2 linked regions of the Homo sapiens genome follow. The protein of the gene in region 2 interacts with the protein of the main gene of each other region in a pairwise test. Each region holds a gene or a part of one and is shown on either strand. Other genes may lie near its edges.

Region 1 (3,658 bases), on a different chromosome or scaffold from region 2:
CTCTACATAAAATACAAAAAATTAGTTGGGCATGGTGGCACGTGCCTATAGTCCCAGCTACTTTGGAGGCTGAGGTGGGAGAATCACCTGAGCCCGGGAAGTCAAGGCAGCAGAGAGCCAAGATTGCTTCCGCATTTGCACTCCAGCCTGAGTGATAGAGTGAGACCCTGTCTTAAAAAAAAAAAAAAAAAAGTGTGTGGGCCTGTCAGAGTCTGTTGGCTGTTGGGGGGAACTAGCTATAAGTTAGGATCAGAGGCATCTACCATAGGACCAAAAGACCTGTTGGAGGCTACTCTGGGCACAGTGCCTGTGGAGTAGCCCTACTCGCCAAGGAGCAGTTTAAAAAAAAAAAGACCTGTCGCACAGACAGGATGTACCAGGTAGCCCACTTTGGGTCTCATCTGTAGTCTGGTCTAGAGCTCTTGCCAGTTCTGGTTTTTCCTTGCTGGTTAAGAATGGTAGGTACTTTGGACTTCCAACTGACTTGGGCATGAAATGGAACCTCCACACCACCCCTTGTTCTTCTACCCGGGCAAATTATAGAGCTGGTCAAGATTTGAGATGGACCTGCAGTGAAGACTCAGCTTAGGCGATGTCATCTGTCCTTCATTGTTCGTTGTTTGGAAAACTAGTGGTCTCAGTGAGGGACATCTCTCAGCCTAAAGACAGATAAGGCAAACACACACCAAAAAATCAACAAGTTTGACATTTTTAAAAAGGGCTTATGTATTTGGGAAGTAAATATGACATAGGATTTTTATCTTTATATTAAATATATTGCTAAGAGAAAAACAGAGACCACAGTAGGTAAATAAGCAAAGCATAATAAACAGATTACATATTTTTAAAATAATTATCACATATCAAATTAGCTTATTTCCTCTCCTTATGATTTCACTTTCTTGTATTAACATTTTTACAAGAAAATACAAAAACATTTATTTCATAGATGCACATGTGCAAGTATATAGGTTAAGAATAGTATATAAACACACACACACACACACACACACACACACACACACACACACACATGTCCAATGGAGTACACCCACAAATATATTTTCTCACCAGTAAGTATATACTCTTGGCAAAATATGTGGTTTGGTGGGTAAGAAAAAAGTATGTAAAAGGAGGAAAGCCATTTACTAGAGAGTACATATAAACGAGAAAATAGGTGGGCAAAAAAGAAAGGGTTAAGCAAACTCTGGGCACTAATTGGGTCCATAGTCACATCCTTTAAAGTCGTTGTTTAAGATTTATAATTTGACTGACTTCTGGTTTGACAACAAAAGACTGTTGACTTCTGCAGTTCTCTCCCATCCCTCCCTTTTTAAAAGCTAATAGCTAGTGCAGGTGAGGGCACAGTTAAACTGACATATTGCTGTTGATTTTACGAATTGTACAAATTCTCTAGAAAGCAATTTCTTTTTTCTTTTCTTTTTCTTTCTTTTTTTTTTTTTTTTTTTGAGACAGTGTCTTGCTCTGTCACCCAGGCTAGAGTGCAGTGGTGCAATCTCAGATTACCTCAACCTCTGTCTCCCAGATTCAAGCAATTCTCCTGTCTCAGCCTCCCAAGTAGCTGGGATTACAGGCACATACCACCATACCTGGCTAATTTTTGTATTTTTATTAGAGATGAGGTTTCGCCATGTTGGCCAGGCTGGTCTCGAACTCCTGACTTCAGGTCATCCACCTGCCTCGGCCTCCCAAAGTACTGGGATTACAGGCGTGAGCCACTGTGCCTGGCTAGAAAGCAATTTGATCAAGTTATTTTCTTCTCTGATGAAATACCTTACTTCTTGAAATCAATCAATAAAACCACTCAAAGTATAGGTTATGTGCATAAAACTGTTGCATTGTCATTGGTAGCAGAGATATAGAAATGATCTGCCTATCCACCTATAAAGGCATGGTTATAAATCTACTTCACATCCTTTATTGAATAAACTGGGTTATAGTAAAGTGAGCTGGACGGGATGGGGAAATAAGCAGAATCAATGGAAGGAGATCAAAATTATTAACAGAAATAGGGTTGGAAGTGTAGTAATATATTCTAAAATATTTTAAATGAAGTTTTATTACTCTATAATGCGGCCAGGCGCAGTGGCTCACGCCTGTAATCCCAGCACTTTGGGAGGCCGAGGCGGGTCGATCACCTGAGGTCAGGAGTTCGAGACCAGCCTGGCCAACATGGTGAAACCCTGTCTCTACTAAAAATATAAAAATTAGCTGGGTGTGGTGGCACATGCCTCAAATCCCGGCTACTCAGGAGGCTGAGGCAGGAGAGTCACTTGAACCTGGGAGGTGGAGGTTGCAGTGAGACGAGATGGTACCATTACACCCCAGCCTGGGCACCACTGCACTCCAGCCTGGGCAACAAGAGAGAAACTCCATCTCAAAAAACAAAAATGCATTTAAGTAGAAAATGTATGTAAAGAAAAAATAGATAAGTAGTGTCATATCACAGTCAACATATATCCTTGTGTCTCTTTTTTTTTTTGAGACAGAGTTTAGCTCTTATCACCAAGGCTGGAGCATGATCTTGGCTCACTGCAACCTCCGCCTCCTGAGTTCAAGCGATTCTTCTGCCTCAGCTTCCTGAGAAGCTGGGATTACAGGTGCCTGCCACCACACCGGGCTAATTTTTGTATGTTTAGTGGAGATGGGGTTTCACCATGTTGGCCAGGCTAGTCTGGAACTCCTAACCTCAGGTGATCCACCTGCCTCAGCCTCACAAAGTGCTGCAATTACAGGCATGAACCACCATGCCCGGCACCTTGTGCCTATTTTTTAGAATATTTTTTATTTTTTAAAATTCTTTTTTACCTCCATTCTCTTAGAATGTGATAGAATTTTTTTTAAAATTTTATTTATTTATTTATTTTGAGATGGAGTCTTGCTCTGTCGCCCAGGGTGGTGTGCAGTGGCGCGATCTCGCGTCACTGCAACCTCCACCTCCCGGGTTCGAGCAACTCTCCTGCCTCAGCCTCCCGAGTAGCTGGGACTGCAGGCGCACGCCACCACACCTGCATAATGTTTTGTATTTTAGTAGAGACAGGGTTTCACTGTCTCCCAGGCTGGTTGCGAACTCCTGAGCTCAGGCAATCCGCCCGCCTCGGCCTCCCAAAATGCTGGGATTACAGGCATGAGCCACCGCGCCCGTCCTAGACTATCTTAAAATATGTGTTTCCTTTACTTTCCTGCTTCAGTGAATTTATAACCAATGCTGTGGTTTTGCATGGATTTTTAAAGTATGAGGAAAAGAGATGATTGAAAACTTCGGTTGTCAGGGTAAAAACTGAGTAGTGAATTTCAATGTACTTTTAAATGAAAAGTCTCTGACCACAGTATATAATTATTTAGGAAAATCTCATCTGTATTTAACTACTATGCTTATTTTTGAAAAGTTGAATCTTGAATATCTCTCTTTGATATATATTTTTTTCTCTTTTTCTTTTCTTTTTCTTTTTTTTTTTTTTTTTTTTTTGAGAAAAGATTTCACTCTGTTGCCCAGGCTGGAGCACAGTGGCACAATCACAGCTCACTGCAGCCTCAACTTCCTGGGCTAAAGTGATCCTTCCACCTTAGCCTCCTGAGTAGCTGGGACTACAGGCACACGCCACCACGCCCAGCTAATTTTTTTTTTTTTTTCGTA
Region 2 (3,658 bases):
GATATTTGTTATTGAACTACTTAAAATTCCTTAAAATATTCTTACAGAATGGACACCAAGGTGGCATTATAGGAATATATTTCAATTAGAGTTAAATTATATGTGGTAAAAGAAAAGCATATTCTTATAAGGGCATTATTTTAAATACTTTTCTAGTCACTAATGTTTTTCTAATCAACATATAAATACTTGGAAACGGTGGTATACCTAATAAGATCAGGAAGTTTTTTTCCCAGATCACAGTAGTATCAAATAGTTGCTTGTAATTTTTCCTCACTTCTGTAATATAAAACTATATTTAAAGGTATAGTCTCTAATATAAAAATCTTTAAATGGAAGTTTCATATGTATTTTTTACTTTGGTACTTTCAACATTTATAATATGTTGAACTTAAGCAGTACAATGTTTTGGTTAGATTCTTCTCATTTATACATATACATATATGTATTATATATATTTATATTTATATATGTTATATATATGTATGTGTGTATATATATACCTATATATATATATATATATATATATATATATATATTTTTTTTTTTTTTTTTTTTTTTTTTGAGAAAGGGTTTTGCTCTGTCACCCAGGCTGGAGTGCAGTGGGACCATCTCAGCTCACTTCAACCTCTGTCTTCCTGACTCAAGCCATCCTCTCACCTCAGCCTCCCAAGTAGCTGGGACTGCAGGCATGTGCCACCACGTCTGGCTAATTTTTTTGTATTTTTTGTATAGGTGGGTTTCACCATGTTGCCCAGGCTGATCTCTAACTCCTGGGCTCAAATGATCTGCCTGTTAAGGCTCCAGAAGTGCTGGGATTACAGGCATGAGCCACCAGGCCTGGCATAAAAATTTTCTTTAGAACAAAAAATATTTTTAACTGAAAAAAGGGAATTTTAAGTATATACCTTACTATTATTGGATTAGTCATCTCAGGCTTTACTCCTGGCTCATTTATTTTATGATCTTGGTTATATAAGCAAAGTTTAATGTTCCAATTTTTCAATGAGGTAAAATGAAAAGGTTGAAATTTTACCATCTTTTGGAATATTTGAAAGTATTGACCACAGGAATCAGATTTTTAGTCTAATTATTGATATATTAGTTTGCATAAGAGAAGAAATTAATTTTTCGAGACAGCTTCTACCTCTTTCATACACATGAATGAAGTCTTTGATTAAATGATAAAAATATTATCTTCTCAGATCGTTTCAGTTTTCTAAATACTGAATTACTTTAAAATATATTATCTTAAGCTCAGAAGTACATCTTCTGAAAAATAATGTTTTTCTTAACCAGAACTAATAATTTAAAAGTTCAGCATATAATGGGCAATCCTCTTAACTAGCCCTTCCTCTTCCATTTTTCCTTTCCTCTTTTGCTGTTATATTAAATCATATCTTACACTTAAGATATGATTTTTTTCAGTGGAATTATTGATTTTACATATAGCAACCATTTTACTTATCTTAAATCATTCGCTTAGAAAATTTACTTATTTACTAATGAGTAAAACTAAAGTGAAAAACTCATTAAAACATTATTATATGCACACACATAAAAGACCTTTAGTTTTTAAAAAATTTCTCAAACCAGTTAATTTTTTGCCGTGGTGTTCTTCAACACTCCCTAGTACAAAGGTGCCATTAGAAAGCAAGCAAGAATAGTTTTGAGCTGATTTTTAGAATGTATTTTTTAAACAATGGTAGGTTCAAGATGAGGAATAAAAGAAGTAGACCTTTTCTTATATAAGAAGTACTAGGAATAATGGGTTATTGGCAGTATCAAAAAAACAAGATTCTTTTCCAAATTCATATGTCTCATAGAATTTAGTGGTCTGAAACCATTAGAAGCATAGTTCTTCCAGGGGTTAATAATATATTCTGCCAATAGCCAACTTAGTTATTGGACCAGGGACAAAGTCTCAAACATACATATTTGTCTAAATATTTTACCTTTCTGCAGGACACCTCAGTAGAATATGTAAAAAAATCCTTCCATTTATTTTACTAATTTTGTTAGGCCAGAAGTTTTCATTTTTCTCCTTTTATATAAATCAGTAAAAGCAATTTCAGTAGGTCCAAGAAAATAAAAAACATTTATTCCAAGCCAGTCTCCCCACTGTATTTGTTTGCAGCCTTACATCTGTCAGAGAGTAAATAGTTGACTATTTTTTCCATTTTGTACTTTTTATTCATTTAATATTCCTTATGAACCATACCATACATTAAGTTCTTTTAAAATATTTTTGTTTTACGAAACGTAGATTTAATAGAAGATATAGGACTTAAAGAAGAATTGGGTAGCCTTCTTAAGCAATTCATCTAACATGAGCTTGTGCAAATTGTTTTAAACTTTTCCTGATGGTAAATTTGAAACTAATGATTCCTTCTGCCTTTAATTTATGGGTTTTTTTGCAAGTATCAAGTAATATGTTTGTAAAAATACTTAGTAAGCTGTGAACAACAATTCAAAATTGATGGTAGGATTATGAGCATATTGAAATTTTTTGCAGAATTTATAAACTCAGAAATACTGAAAAGAGCAAGACCTTTGATTTACTAAAATGTTTCATTTTAGTTAATGGGGTGGTATAGAGTGGTGTTCACTCTCTTATATGTAATATAAATACTTATAGCAGTGTGATCATCCCTGGTTACTGATATAAACTAGATTTTACATAGTACTACGTTTTAAAAGAAGTAGATTAAATGATTTTACATTCATTTTTGGAAAAATACCTTAGGGCCACATAATGATTTTTCTTTCAAAAATATTTTAAAAACTAATGATAACTAAAATGTAAAGCTTTACAGGAATTAACAAAGATACATTCACATTCCCATTTTTGTCAAGGAGATATTGAATACTTTCTTTTTCATATGCAGCCACCTTGGTAGCCCATCTGCTTTATTAGGATTGCACTATTAAGGTTACCATAAATTACTAACAAGTATGCCTCCCAAATTCTTAACTTACTCAGTAATCTTTGCAATTATAGAAAAACAGAACTTAATTTTATCTTATTTATTAGAACTCAAGTCTACTTCATTTTGAAAATAGGTAAATACAGATGACTCTGAATTTGCCACCTTTCACTTTACATTTATATTGCTTCACTATTAAGGAAAAATGCTGGCACTCTAGACCCATTGAAAGACTCACTTGGGGGTTTCTTTTTAGGAGAGCTGGAAACAGAGAATTCTTTTTGTTATATTGGCAGGTTTTAGTTTCTTCAGGGATTTGTTGTTGTTGTTTTGTCTCTTTATTTTGGTCTAAATATCTTCAAAACTTCAGTGATGGAAATATGTTTTTTTTAAAAATACAAATTAAATAAAATTTAGCTCTTCCTACAATAGTTTGGGCTCTAAATGATTTCTCTCGATCAAACTTCCATTTATTTTTAATATTTTATATATTCACCCATTTCATTTTTTAGGAGATTTTATGAAGATGGAGCAATTGTCTTGGGTGAAGAAGCAAATATGCTTGCTGGCATGCTTCTAGGACTCAATGCTATTGATTTCAGGTACTTAACCAAATGCATTCAGTTTTTAAATTATTCTATATCTTAATAGTTTCTACTTATGATTTTTTTCTTTCAGTTGTCTAAGTAAAGCACACAGTTGGATATTGTTATTTGATTCATGTTGTTCTC

Evidence for each region. The genes of interacting proteins can lie anywhere in the genome.
Region 1: the proteins of RUNDC3B (region 2) and CSNK1G1 interact in a two-hybrid assay, tested with the Homo sapiens proteins (one large-scale study listed by BioGRID and IntAct).

Annotation. Positions count from the first base shown.
Region 1 is NC_000015.10:64,199,083-64,202,740, reverse strand, and holds part of CSNK1G1 (casein kinase I isoform gamma-1), read left to right. Parts: intron 1-3,658.
Region 2 is NC_000007.14:87,736,352-87,740,009, forward strand, and holds part of RUNDC3B (RUN domain-containing protein 3B), read left to right. Parts: intron 1-3,439; coding exon 3,440-3,529; intron 3,530-3,658.